4 separate regions of the Homo sapiens genome follow, and all the other regions are reported to be linked to region 3. The links are microRNA targets in miRTarBase. Many come from high-throughput screens and were not tested one by one. Region 3 holds a microRNA gene; each other region holds the end of a gene's coding sequence.

What was found. The annotated mature microRNA hsa-miR-497-5p reads CAGCAGCACACUGUGGUUUGU and lies in region 3 at 913-933, opposite strand. An mRNA with a match to its seed (bases 2 to 7 or 8) in the 3' UTR can be bound and repressed. Matches are read on the target gene's strand: a 7mer-m8 pairs with bases 2 to 8, a 7mer-A1 pairs with bases 2 to 7 and ends in A, and an 8mer does both.
Region 1: the mRNA of GSG1 is a reported target of hsa-miR-497-5p. Seed matches in the 3' UTR shown: 8mer at 1,114-1,121.
Region 2: miRTarBase lists CHIC1 as a target of hsa-miR-497-5p. The part of its 3' UTR that is shown has no 7-base or 8-base seed match.
Region 4: miRTarBase lists TLL1 as a target of hsa-miR-497-5p. Seed matches in the 3' UTR shown: 7mer-m8 at 1,599-1,605 and 8mer at 1,595-1,602.

The regions. Positions count from the first base shown.
Region 1 is chr12:13,082,061-13,085,134 of GRCh38, reverse strand. It overlaps GSG1 (germ cell associated 1), which reads left to right. Exons shown (of 7, transcript NM_001080555.4): 7 at 1-1,603. The coding sequence ends at 234. FAM234B (family with sequence similarity 234 member B) reads right to left here. Exons shown (of 13, transcript NM_020853.2): 13 at 1,686-3,074. Among named protein-coding and RNA genes, the nearest start is that of GSG1, 20 kb to the left of the region's middle. RefSeq lists an enhancer at 1-531.
Region 2 is chrX:73,680,509-73,683,591 of GRCh38, forward strand. CHIC1 (cysteine rich hydrophobic domain 1) reads left to right here. Exons shown (of 6, transcript NM_001039840.4): 6 at 447-3,083. The coding sequence ends at 497. Among named protein-coding and RNA genes, the nearest start is that of CHIC1, 120 kb to the left of the region's middle.
Region 3 is chr17:7,017,067-7,020,149 of GRCh38, forward strand. It overlaps MIR497 (microRNA 497), which reads right to left and starts at 956; the gene lies at 845-956. BACC1 (BPTF associated chromatin complex component 1) reads left to right here. Exons shown (of 6, transcript NM_174893.4): 6 at 195-454. The coding sequence ends at 199. RNASEK-C17orf49 (RNASEK-C17orf49 readthrough) reads left to right here. Exons shown (of 8, transcript NR_037717.1): 8 at 195-458. MIR497HG (mir-497-195 cluster host gene) reads right to left here and starts at 2,588. Exons shown (of 3, transcript NR_038310.1): 1 at 2,312-2,588; 2 at 3-322. It also overlaps MIR195. RefSeq lists enhancers at 1-141, 1,493-1,662.
Region 4 is chr4:166,100,278-166,103,360 of GRCh38, reverse strand. TLL1 (tolloid like 1) reads right to left here. Exons shown (of 21, transcript NM_012464.5): 21 at 1-2,619. The coding sequence ends at 2,485. Among named protein-coding and RNA genes, the nearest start is that of TLL1, 230 kb to the right of the region's middle.

The DNA of each region.
Region 1 (3,074 bases), not on the chromosome of region 3:
GAAAACCCGAACTGCCTACCACATCACCATCAGTGTTTCCCTCGGCGGCTGTCAAGTGCAGCCCCCACCGTGGGTCCTTTGACCAGCTACCACCAGTATCATAATCAGCCCATCCACTCTGTCTCTGAGGGAGTCGACTTCTACTCCGAGCTGCGGAACAAGGGATTTCAAAGAGGGGCCAGCCAGGAGCTGAAAGAAGCAGTTAGGTCATCTGTAGAGGAAGAGCAGTGTTAGGAGTTAAGCGGGTTTGGGGAGTAGGCTTGAGCCCTACCTTACACGTCTGCTGATTATCAACATGTGCTTAAGCCAACATCCGTCTCTTGAGCATGGTTTTTAGAGGCTACGAATAAGGCTATGAATAAGGGTTATCTTTAAGTCCTAAGGGATTCCTGGGTGCCACTGCTCTCTTTTCCTCTACAGCTCCATCTTGTTTCACCCACCCCACATCTCACACATCCAGAATTCCCTTCTTTACTGATAGTTTCTGTGCCAGGTTCTGGGCTAAACCATGGAGATAAAAAGAAGAGTAAAATACACTTCCCGACCTTAAGGATCTGATACATCTAGTTATTGGTCTGGAAATTGGAGAAATGGAGGTGAGCAAATTAACGGTAGTGTGACTGTGGCTCAACTTTCCATGGTACGCGCGAATTGTTCTGGAAGTCACAGATGGGAAGACAGAAGCGCCCCTGAGTGCTTTGTCATATAGCACAGAAGTCCTCCACACTGCCTGGGACAGTGTCCTGCATCCACACAGTAGGTACCCAGTAAAAGTGTTATTAAATATTGTCCCAGGAGCCCTTAGGAGAGTGGTTTAACATGAGAAGGCGCCAACAGCACACAGGGTCAGGGTCACTTCTAGAAATAGCCCACCAAGGCTATTCAGATTGGACTGTGGTTCCCTTCTGGACAGTCACACCAGGGACTTCCCAGTGAACAAGGGGGCATAGGCTCCTCTCTGGATCCCACCTTTTCATCCCTTCTGAGAAATGTACCCTATTATTTCCTTCATAAAGAATGCCACCCATCTGATTCCTCAAGAATCTAGACCTAGAAATACCATTTGACCCAGCCATCCCATTACTGGGTAGATACCCAAAGGATTACAAATCATGCTGCTATAAAGACACATGCACACATATGTTTATTACGGCACTATTTATAATAGCAAAGACTTGGAACCAACCCAAATGTCCATCAGTGATAGACTGGATTAAGAAAATGTGGCACATATACACCATGGAATACTATGCAGCCATAAAGAAGGATGAGTTTATGCCCTTTGTAGGGACATGGATGAAGCTGGAAACCATCATTCTGAGCAAACTATCGCAAGGATAGAAAACCAAACACTGCATATTCTCACTCACAGGTGGGAATTGAACAATAAAAACACTTGGACACAGGGTGGGGAACATCACACACCGGGCCTGTCATGGGGTGGGGGGAGGGGGGAGGGATAGCATTAGGAGATATACTAACGTAAATGACGAGTTAATGGGTGCAGCACACCAACATGGCACATGTATACATATGTAACAAATCTGCACGTTGTGCACATGTACCCTAGAACTTAAAAAAAAAAAAAAAAGAATGCCACCCATCTACTTGCCCGTTCTCTTTTCCATATGGGGAAACAAACCATCCTTGATGACTAAGACGAATGAGAATGGCACACAAGTGTATTCCTGTAGAGTATTTATTTATTTACTCTATAACAGTTCACATTTTAAATAGTGCTTCCTGACAATATACCAGCTGGCTCTTCTTTAATAGGGCAATAAGGATAGCAATTCACATTCAGGGGATTAGTTTCACCATACCACACATTTGGGGGATGGCAAAAACGGGGTCTAAGGAAAAGGGAGGGTGTTTAAGGGAAAGAGGAGGGTAAGACCCTTGCATTTGTAGAAGTCATTACTATTTCTCAGTAGTGGTCATATTGGCTTTGCCGGCAACCTCAGGATGGGATTAGAGAAAGAAAGGAGCATGTCCTATCTTAGACACCTGGGTGGGTGGCTGCCTGCAAGGAGAAGGAGGCTTAGGGACACATTTCACAAGAAACCAGCACCCACATTGGTCAGATGAAGCTTCCTCAATTTTCAGCCACCACTTACACCTTTCTGTACCGGCTGCAAGAGGAAGAAGAAAACTAAACTTATAATGTTGTTTGGCAAGGAGAGATTCAAACTTACCATAGTCAAAAGAATCTATGTTAAGTTAGTTTGCAAATACACCATGAAGAATTCAGGTACATTAAGTTTCTCTAGCTTCCTCTTATCTTTCTGGGATTTGCCCTGCATAAACACAGTCCTCTGCCCAAACAATCCCACCAAAACAGGTCCTCAGAAAACAACTTCATGTTTCACTCCTGCGCAGAGTGGCTGGCTTCCCAGAAAGCCTTAACATAACAGAGAACCAGGTTATGCCCGGACAGCTCAGCCAAACCACAGGACCACCACCCAAGTTTTGGGTATTCAGCTGCCTATAAATTAATTCTTCAAATTCTATACTAAACCAAATTAGGTCCCAGGCCCTTAAACTCAAGTAGATTCAAATCCCAGAAATTATCTGGAATCATTCCCATACTCTAGAAGTATCTTCTTATTCCTCCAAAGTCAAGCTGGACCCACAGATGACTTCCAAACTGTTGAAACAAAATTTGCCTTCAGGATCTTAAGGCAGAGGCACCCAGAAACCTGATAAGGCCAATCTACAGGCCAGGCAACATGCATGCTTGGATCTACTGCTACCAACCTCCTGTTAGGTCATAATGCCTGTCAGTGGGTAATTAACAGAGATCCCTTTGAATCTGGACTTCATAATTTTCTAGAATCCTTTTACTAACACAAGCTAAAAGATACAAGCCCAGCCGGGCATGGTGGCTCACGCCTGTAATCCCAGCACTTTGGGAGGCAGAAGCAGGTGGATTATCTGAGGTCAGGAGTTCGTGACCAGCCTGGCCAACATGGTGAAACCCCGTCTCTACTAAAAATACAAAAAAAAAAATTAGCCAGGCATGGTAGCGGGCACCTGTAGTCCCAGCTACTTGGGAGGCTAAGGCTGGAGAATCG
Region 2 (3,083 bases), not on the chromosome of region 3:
TTGTGAACGATAGTAATCTCCAACTAATATCAGTTTCTTTAATTGAAAAATATATAAATCTAATATAAAGGCATTTTTTAATCTGTATAGCATTTTTTTAATCTCTACTTTGCTAACAAAGAGATAGGGGTGTGGGGGAAAAACATAATATAATTTAATGGAGTTTGCTCCTGTTAACCTAGACAAATAGTTATTGTAAATCAGATAGTAAAATCTGTTAGCTACAATAAGTAGTTTTGTTTGCCAGCTTAATTTTTAAATTGCCAATCTAATAACAACTTGTGGTTTAAGTTCTTTACATATTTTTTTCATGTATTTCACTTACTTTATATGGTTCAGGATTGAAATATTGTCCTATGAAAAATGATTATAGACTTTCTGGGTTATTTATAAGTTATATTAAATGAAAAATATTTTGTAAATATATTCTTGTTTTTATTTTGCAGGTAATACTAATAGAATTCTTACCAAAATATCCCATATTCCGACCTGACTGAGGAGTTTTATCCAGTCACTTCTGTGTTACCTGTCATTTCCTACCCTTAGTGCCTTGTAGATTTGGAATGAAGATGGTCTCCTTTGCTGTGTTCAACTTATTCTTTATAATGGTAGAATATTCTTCTCGCTCTTTTGTGTTGGTTTATGAAGAAAATTTGCACATCTTTTTTGTCTTTCAATGAGGCTTGTGTTTTGCACTCTCAATTTTAAATACACACACATGCGTGTGTGCATATACATATATAGATAGTTGCCATTAAAGATAAATCATCAGTGTTGGTGTTTAAAAAACAAAAACTTGTTCTGAGCATGCTGCCTTATAATTTTCATACTCATTGTTTCTAAACTCGCATCATTTTTCTAGGCTACTTGATGCTCTGTAATCCCTTACTGGACAAACTTAAATAAGCTTTTGGTAGCTTTTAGAAATGGTTTTACTCTGCTTTTAAAGGACATGCTTTTAAAGGACATGCAATTAATGGCACTGGTTTTGTCCTGCACTTTGCTTTATCACTTATGTTAGTGGATAAAATATTTAAACTCCTAAAGACTTGTAAATATTGCCTCTTTGCATAATGTAAAATGTGGTATGCCATGGTTTACATAATGTAACATTACTCTTATTGTATTGCCAACAATTTTACATAGATTTTAATATGAATGAAGTTTGCAAGCATCCCTTTGAATGTAGAAACTGCTAACATGCTGTTTTATGGCAAGGCCATAATGAGTATGTTAAGAATTTCAGGTGTAGGGCAAGGTTGCCCTTTGTAACAAGTGGACTAAAATTGAAATTATTATCTCAGATATTCTGTATTGCACCTGAAACCATGACCTTTATTTTTCCATTTCGTTTAATAATTTCCATTTTGTTGTCTACTCCTTCCCACAAAAAAACTATTTGACATCTGACACATTTCACAGTCTCACTATCCTGCATTTATTAGCCTTTTCTTCCTTTGAAAATACACACAATTATGACTTTTAAGGAGTATTTTGAGATTTCAGACATCTTCAGAAGGTATCTAGACCCTCTTGAAAGCCACTAACACCTTTCTGCAGTTCTGATATTCTAGTTTGAGAAAGAGAGAGAACTATTTGAGAAGCTGTAGCTAAAGAGTATATAGCAGCTGATTCATAATTGAAAAAAAATTCTCAATTCTGTTTTTGATGATCCTTTATAAAACATTAATGAGGAAAGACAAGTGTTTAGACAAAAGTATTTTAGTTTATAAATTCAGCACATATGTAACATTTATTTGGTCCATATTTCTCTATTTTTCTTCACAATTAAAATGATTGCTAGCACCACACAACTAGAATTTGAAAATTCAGTATAATGAAAGCTTTATATCACATTAATTCAACTGCAAATGTATGCCTGTTTGTAGGCATTATTTGTAATTCATAGTGCTAAAAATAAAAGTGTCTAGGGCTCAGTAATATTTTGTCATCTTACTCTTACTGCTTTTAGTAAACCTTTTAGGCAAGATTCATCTCAGTGAAGTGAACAATCATTTCTTCATAGAAGGTCAAGCCTTTTTAAGCCACTCTTAAAATTTATGCCTAATTTGAAATCCACAGTCCTTGACCAGTTTAAAAAAGAGAGGAAAAAGAAGACACTATTTTATATGTGATTATAATTGTTTGCACAAACACTTTTCCACCTTCCTCTGTGCCCCATTACCTCTGTGCCACTCAGTCACCCCAAATCTCTAACCTTTAGTAATGTGTATGCCTGCAAATATTATGTGTTTGCCTGCTGCAAAATTGAAGGTGTATTTTTATAGACAAGGTAGAAGCCTCTGAAAATGTATACCAAATGTCTTGTTTTGTAGCTAAGGTCGGGAAAAATTGTATCTGAGGTTTATGTTCCAGCTAATGTTATCAAATTTATGCTTCAAACTGTGATATTTTAATACCAAAATCGATTTTCAGCATAATACAAAATATCTCATTTTCACTGATAGAAAATTGCTTTTAAGTGTTGATCCTTAGAAATCTTATTTTTTTCTATAACCTTAGAATTTGATCATATGATGGTCATAGGAACTTTTTCTGCCATGTATAAATCACACTTGGTTTTGCTCAAAGAACAGCATGAAGTGGTGAATTGTTTCCATGAAACAATTATTGAGAATGGGAATACAGTATATCTGGAAATGACACAGTATAATACAAGTTACAGTAGCATTTGTCACAAAAACCACTTGTCAGCATGTGTAAACTTAATTTTAAAGCCTATTCTAATCACTCGAGTTTATTATTTTATTGTTCGCTATGCTGGTTGACTCATCTTAGTTTCTTCAACTACCCAAAAAAATACCAATTTTTTTCCTCTCTTGTATGACTACTTTTTCAAACTGTTTTCCTTTGCAGGGGGCTGATTAGCAATTGAGTATTTTGTAATGTTTGGGCGGGGTTGCTTTGTTTTCAGTGAAATTGGTTGCAGTGAATGCTAAAATGACACAGCACACTGGTGATTAATTCCTCCCCCATGGAGCCTTTTTTCTGTTATGCTTAGGATAGAACATACTTGTAATTTTCCATTAGGTTAGTAACATACTTTTGTGAAAGTTGTTTTT
Region 3 (3,083 bases):
ACCTGGATGGCAGGGCACGGTCTCCGCAGGGGCCCCTCCCTTGTATAGGGGTTTCAGAAGAGAAGGTGCTCTCATACACAGCGCAGGGCATTGGATCAGTACGTAGCAGGGTGTTTCAGGGAGGTGGGAGTGGCCTTGGAAGCACACTGGGGGCTCGCTCCATCTCGGCCCATTTTACTTCCTGTTCCAGACAGCCTGACCCTGGATTCTGGCCTTCTCATGACCTCTGCTGATCCTCCTCTCCTCTCCTGCTGAGCCTTCCACCTCTGACCTCTCACTGTTCATGCCGGACCTGTGGATCTCCTGGGACTCCGAGCAAGGCCTGCACGAGAGAGGGCTGAAAGGCTGCTGGGGCTGCCACCTCGCTATTCCCGCATAAGCATCTGCCCCCAACCCCTTTGACCTTCATCTGATGGACATTTTTATACAGAAAACAATAAAGATTTCCCTCTCAGCTTCGTGCTGTCTGCTTAACATTATTAGCAGGAGAGGCCTGTTCCCTCTTCTCTCCTCGGCCCATGGGGGCTCAGCCCCTCCTCGGTAGTTTTCACCACCCTGCCTGGAGCAGCACAGCCAATATTGGCAGACTCGCTTCCCTGTGCCAATATTTCTGTGCTGCTAGAGCCAGGGAAGCTGGGTGTGGGCAACAAAGACTCCACTTTGTTCTCTTGAGGCAGAACTTACTCCCAGGGTCTCTGGCCATCAGTATTCTTGAAACTGCCCTGGAGATTTTAGAGGGGTGCTTACATACCCCACCCTCTCCTTGCCCACCTGGCAAGAAGTTTGTCACAAGGCCCCAGATGTTTTTTGTGTCACTTCTCCAGGATGGCCTCCCAGGGCCAAGCCTCGGCGGTGCCTCCCCCACCCTCGCTCTAACACCACAGTGTGGTTTGGACGTGGCCACAGTGCCGTACAAACCACAGTGTGCTGCTGGGGCGGGAGCAGGACCGGGGTGGGTTGAAAGGAAGAGAGCACATAGCAGTGCTGGGAAGACCCCAGCACCACCTCCAGGAGCGGGGGGATAGAGAAGCCTTAAAAGGCAAACATGGCCCCCAAAAACGTTTGGGAGGAACCAGGGACGGGCTGAGCAGGCAACTGGAAGGCGACGGACCATGGGGATGAGCTCACAGTGTAGTAAGATTGGACCATCTTCCCTCTGTAGGAACTCAGCTCAGGGGATCCCTAGGGTGGGGTCAGAGGCAGAAGAAATAGGGAATGACTGGAGGGGCCAACACACTGCCTCCTGTCTCAGCAAGGGCAGGGACCCAAGGCTTCCTGTGTCCGTCCTTCCTCTCCCTGGGTCAGAACCCAAGAGAAAAGCAAGGAGAGACAGAGGGCCAAGGCCAGCAGGGTTGGGAGTTGGCAGTCCAGAGGTGGTGGGGCCGGAACATGGTTGGGAGAGGGGGGCCGGAAGTCGCCCTGGGCCCTGGGCCTGCCACAAGATGGAGGCCAAAGGCAGGAAATGGAGACCAGGGGGAAGGGGAGCAGCAGAGCCCAGGAAGAGGGCCATCTGGACCTGGGGGGCCAGGTATTCAACCCCCAGTGCTGTTCCCACTCCCCAGGGCCCCTGAGGACCCGAGCCGGCCCCCACAGCAACCTCCATCAGCCCATCCACCAGGCCAGGGCAGGCGGGCCCACCCCAGAGAGCCACGTTTAAGCTGAGACAAACATGCCTCTCCCCACCCCCAACTCCAGGCCTTCCCTCAGCCCTTTTCTCCTGTCCAGGACTTGATTTTTTAAAAACACCCCTCAGAAAGCAAAATCCAAGGGCCAAAACTCCTTTTGCAAATCAAAATATGACCCCCTAAAATCCAGAAGTTATCTTCCTATATCCCATCGCATCTTTTACCACCCCCTCTTCCGACACACCCCCCAAAACTCTTAGCAATCTGAAAGATCCAAGGTGGTGTATGTAAGCAGTCTTTTTAGGCCCCCGAAGATGCCAGACCCCTCCCGGACACCCCTATCTGCCCTCCATCAAATCTTGCCAAGGCCTCCTGCTCCTCCACCACCCTCCATAGCCCCCAAACTAACAGTTGCCCCCAGCTCCTACCTCGGCAGAGCCTTTGTGGGGGGTGAAAGAGAAATTAAACACTATCCTAACGGCTGGGGATGTTGGGGGGCTCTCTGGTCTCAGCCTTTGGTTTCCGTCTGGGGGGCTGCAGTTTAGGGGTATAAGAGAAAGCCTCTCCAATCATCCCCCCAATTCCAAGACTGACAAAGCCAACCCCACCCCAGCACGCACCTCCAAACCTCCCCCCCAACCGCCACGTCTCTCCTGAAAACAGAGGACACTTCCCTCCCCACTTACCTCAGCTACTCTCCCCTGAGATCCTGGTCCCCTATTTTGAAAAGAGCAAAATTTAGGGTGCATCCCTCACATTTGGGGTGCAGGAGAAAGGAGCCGCCCCAGTCGCATCGCTGGCCTCCTTCCTCTCGGCTGGCTCAGGGACTGGGGAGTGCCCTGGGGAGGGGGCACCCCCACAAGAGATCTCAGGAGGGGTTCCTCCACTCCCAGTCAGAATTGGGGACACCCCCCCAAAACCCGTCCCAGCCCATCCGTCTCCAACTCGGCGGGAGAGGCAGCTGCAATGCCCCAGTCAGATTCACCCAACACTACATTCCTCACCCCATCTAGAGGGGTCCCGGGGTCCCCAAAAAATCCCAAAAAAATCTAGGATGTTGGGAGGACGGTCCTGGACTAGCTCCCCAAATTTGGGGTCCTCAGATACCCCCGTTTTTTCAGGAAAATTCCGTCTTTTGCCTGCCTCCCGCCAGCCCTGCTCTGTCCCGATGCCAATTTTGGAAGTCACTCCCTCCTTCCTCCTCCCCGTCTCTCCAGGCCCCCCCCACCGCTCGGGGGCTAGGGTCCAGGACACCTGGCTTCCAGACCGGGGGGAATCACTCCTCAAAGGGCTAGGGGCCAGGAGGTCAAGCTCATTGCCCCTGTCTTAAGGAAGCAGGAAAGCCCGTTCCTCCCTTCCCCTCCCCCCTGGCTGGTCACCGTGGTGGTTTAGGAAAGCCTGGAGGATTGGAATCTGCCATTGCTGTTGCACAGGCAGTTTTTTTTCTTGGGTTGGGGG
Region 4 (3,083 bases), not on the chromosome of region 3:
ACTAATTCTGATTCTTAAAGATAGCTATCATTGGTATTCTAAATTTCATGCTGTTCTTAAAAAGAGCAAAATGCTTATCCTGTAAGTTTTACTCTAATTCACCCCTAAAATTTACTTTATGTGGGAAAGTTTCACCATAAAAAATCTACTATTTATATAGGTCGAGATTGATTCTACTACCTTTGTAGAACAAGCAGAGGCTCATTTGTATAAGATAAACTGGGTTTCAACATCTAACTTTACACTGTGACTCTGGGAAGGTTACATAAATTCTTTGAGCCTCACTTTCTGAACTACAAAACGAGAACATGATGACAGTCCTCAAAGTGTAGCATGGAATTTAAAAAGAGCTAGTGCACATTCCTAGCACACGGGTAGGAGTAGTATAGAACAGTATAGGTGTTAATGTTAATGACTTTTTCTCCTCTCTTTCCCATTTCTGGCATATTTTGGCTAACGGGAGATTAGTGAGAAAATATGGAAGAAGTTACTGGAATAAATCAGCTCTACTAAAAGGCTCATCTACATTGCAGGCAATAGTTATACATTTTCAAAGTAACATTCAATAAGATCAAAACATTGGTTATAAAAATGTATTTACATTTTACAATTCATATGCAAGAAATTTTTTCAGGGCAACAATTTAAGAAAAAAACAGATAAGCTACATCTGTGTGTATACTTTAATTGTGTAAAACTGAAAGAATACACCCAATTGTATTCAATGTTGTATGCTCATGGACAGGTAACAGACACAAAGCTACTTCATACAGTAATCTATATTGACATCAAAATAGAGTTTCTCTAAAGGAAAGAGCCTTTTTTTAATGGGATTGATCAAAATTAGAAGTTCCCATTATTTGTCCATGAAACCTAAGGAAGGTGCTATTTCAAATGGAATTCTAGTAGAACTTGGCACATACATTTTAACTTTTCAACCACCCATTATTTTTTACCTCTTGTAGTTTCACTCACTCAGACAATCACACATCTACATTCATTAATTTTAAAAACACACATGCCTTTAAAGCAGAAAATTCATCCTCAAATTACATTTTCTACAAAAAAAGCAGGACACCATATTTATATCCAATGCTTCAGTCATGGAAATGGATTTTCTTCATAGAGCTGTTAATTAACATACACTATTATGTTCAACATTTCAAAAGGTGTGTTTTAGGAGGATCTGTTTGATCATGTGCAGGAATTCTAAGGCATTATAAGTAGTTGTTCCACAGGACAAGTGCTGCCCTTGCAATGATATACTCTTGATATATTTGACAAGTCTTTAGTCTTCAAATGCTACCAGCCATAGGGAGACATTCGTAGTCTACGGGTGGGTTGGCTCAAAGGTCAAAAACTTGTTTGAAAAAAAGTTTATGGAATAGCACCATAAGAAGTCTTTCAGAAACAAATCTTTTTTTTCCAGCATTGTGTTTTGAAAAAATGAATCCCAGGAAGAGAAAAATGAAAGAGACCTTTCAGTTCTCACAAGGCCTACTTCTGCTTCATTTCAATTTTAAAAAATAGATTAACCATGACAACATCAACAATAATAATACAACAATAACAGATCGACAACAAAGGAAAGACAATAGCAGCAGCAGTAACTTGAGTAATGAACCATCCAGACAGTCATTCAGAAGAATCCTGCTCACACCTCTTCGGAGTTTTCTCATAAGGTTCATAAGACATCACAGGCTTCTTGGATTTGGTGTGAAAAGGCAGCACTTCCAAAAAAAAGAACTAAGTTTACCAATTCACTGGGCGTTTTCTGAGACTTAAAGAACTGATGTCTAGAATTTAACTGCAATAATTAGACACCATTGAGATTTCAAACTCATCTAAATGTAAGTACACTAAAGTGGTCTCAAGATCATTTGTGTTTCAGAGGTTAAGCTGGCCTGCAAGTGGAAATAATGAAGCTGAAATATCCCAGTTTCCAAACACCAGACACACACATACACATGGAAAGTACAAATCACCCTCAGAAGACTCCCATTTCACATTCACCTTATATGGATCTGGTTTACACTGTATCCAAGATACAAAGTCAGCAATTATCCTAAGACAACCAAAATACTGTTTTCCAGTTTACGACCTGCAAGATCATTTTATGTCCCTAAATCTTGACAAATTGTCAAAAAGAACACTGCAGGGTCACAGTTCCTGAATTAAACTGTCTGAATTGTGAGGCATCTATTTCAAGCTGTGAACAAAAGCTTGTAGAGTCTTCCTTGAAGTATATGATGCCCTTTCACCAGCTTTATTAATACCATCAAGCATGGAGTTCAAATATCCTTGTAATGCTGATGAGGGTTTTGCTGGAAACTTCTCTTTTAGTACAAAGATAATTCTGGTCTTACAGGGATTTTTTGTTCAAACTCTTTGTATAAAACATTTGTGCCAATATCTTCAGTTTTAAAAAAAATATGTCTTCTCTCCATTATGCACATTCCTTTGTGTTCTGACAGAGGTTTTGGTGTTATTTTTTGGTATGTGTGGTATCTGGATATCTTATGCTTTTGTATCTTATATGAAATCCCTTCTTGTTGATTGTGTCATCAGTGTGGAAATGAATTAAAACTGAATCTCCAATTGAATAAATCTCTTCTGGTGGCTGAAGGAAAACAAAAACAACAAGCAAGTAAACAAGCAATAAAACGAATCACTTTTTCTTCAGTGTAACGCATGTTTGGGAATACTTGTCTTTGGAATATAATTTAATCCTCCCAACAACCTTGGAGAGTAGGTGTAATCAACTTCTTCACTTTATAGAGGAGAAAATGGGATTCGGAGAAGAAAATGACATGCTAGAGCTCACGCGACTAGTCGGTGATGTAGCTGAGCTCTGAACATACGTTACATTTTCTAAGTTCTGGGCACTTTTCTCTCTAGAACTTGAGTGTTTTTCCCTAAACTTTTAAGCCAAGTTCTCTTGATTTACAAATCAGTAAAGTGAGGTTCAGAGAGTGTAAAGAGATACTAAATGTGTTTCAGAAGCTGCTCTGGAGCAGAGCCACTTCCAAAATCCAAATTGTCCATTATTTCTTGTTTTAATACTCTAAGCATCAAGAAGCTTTT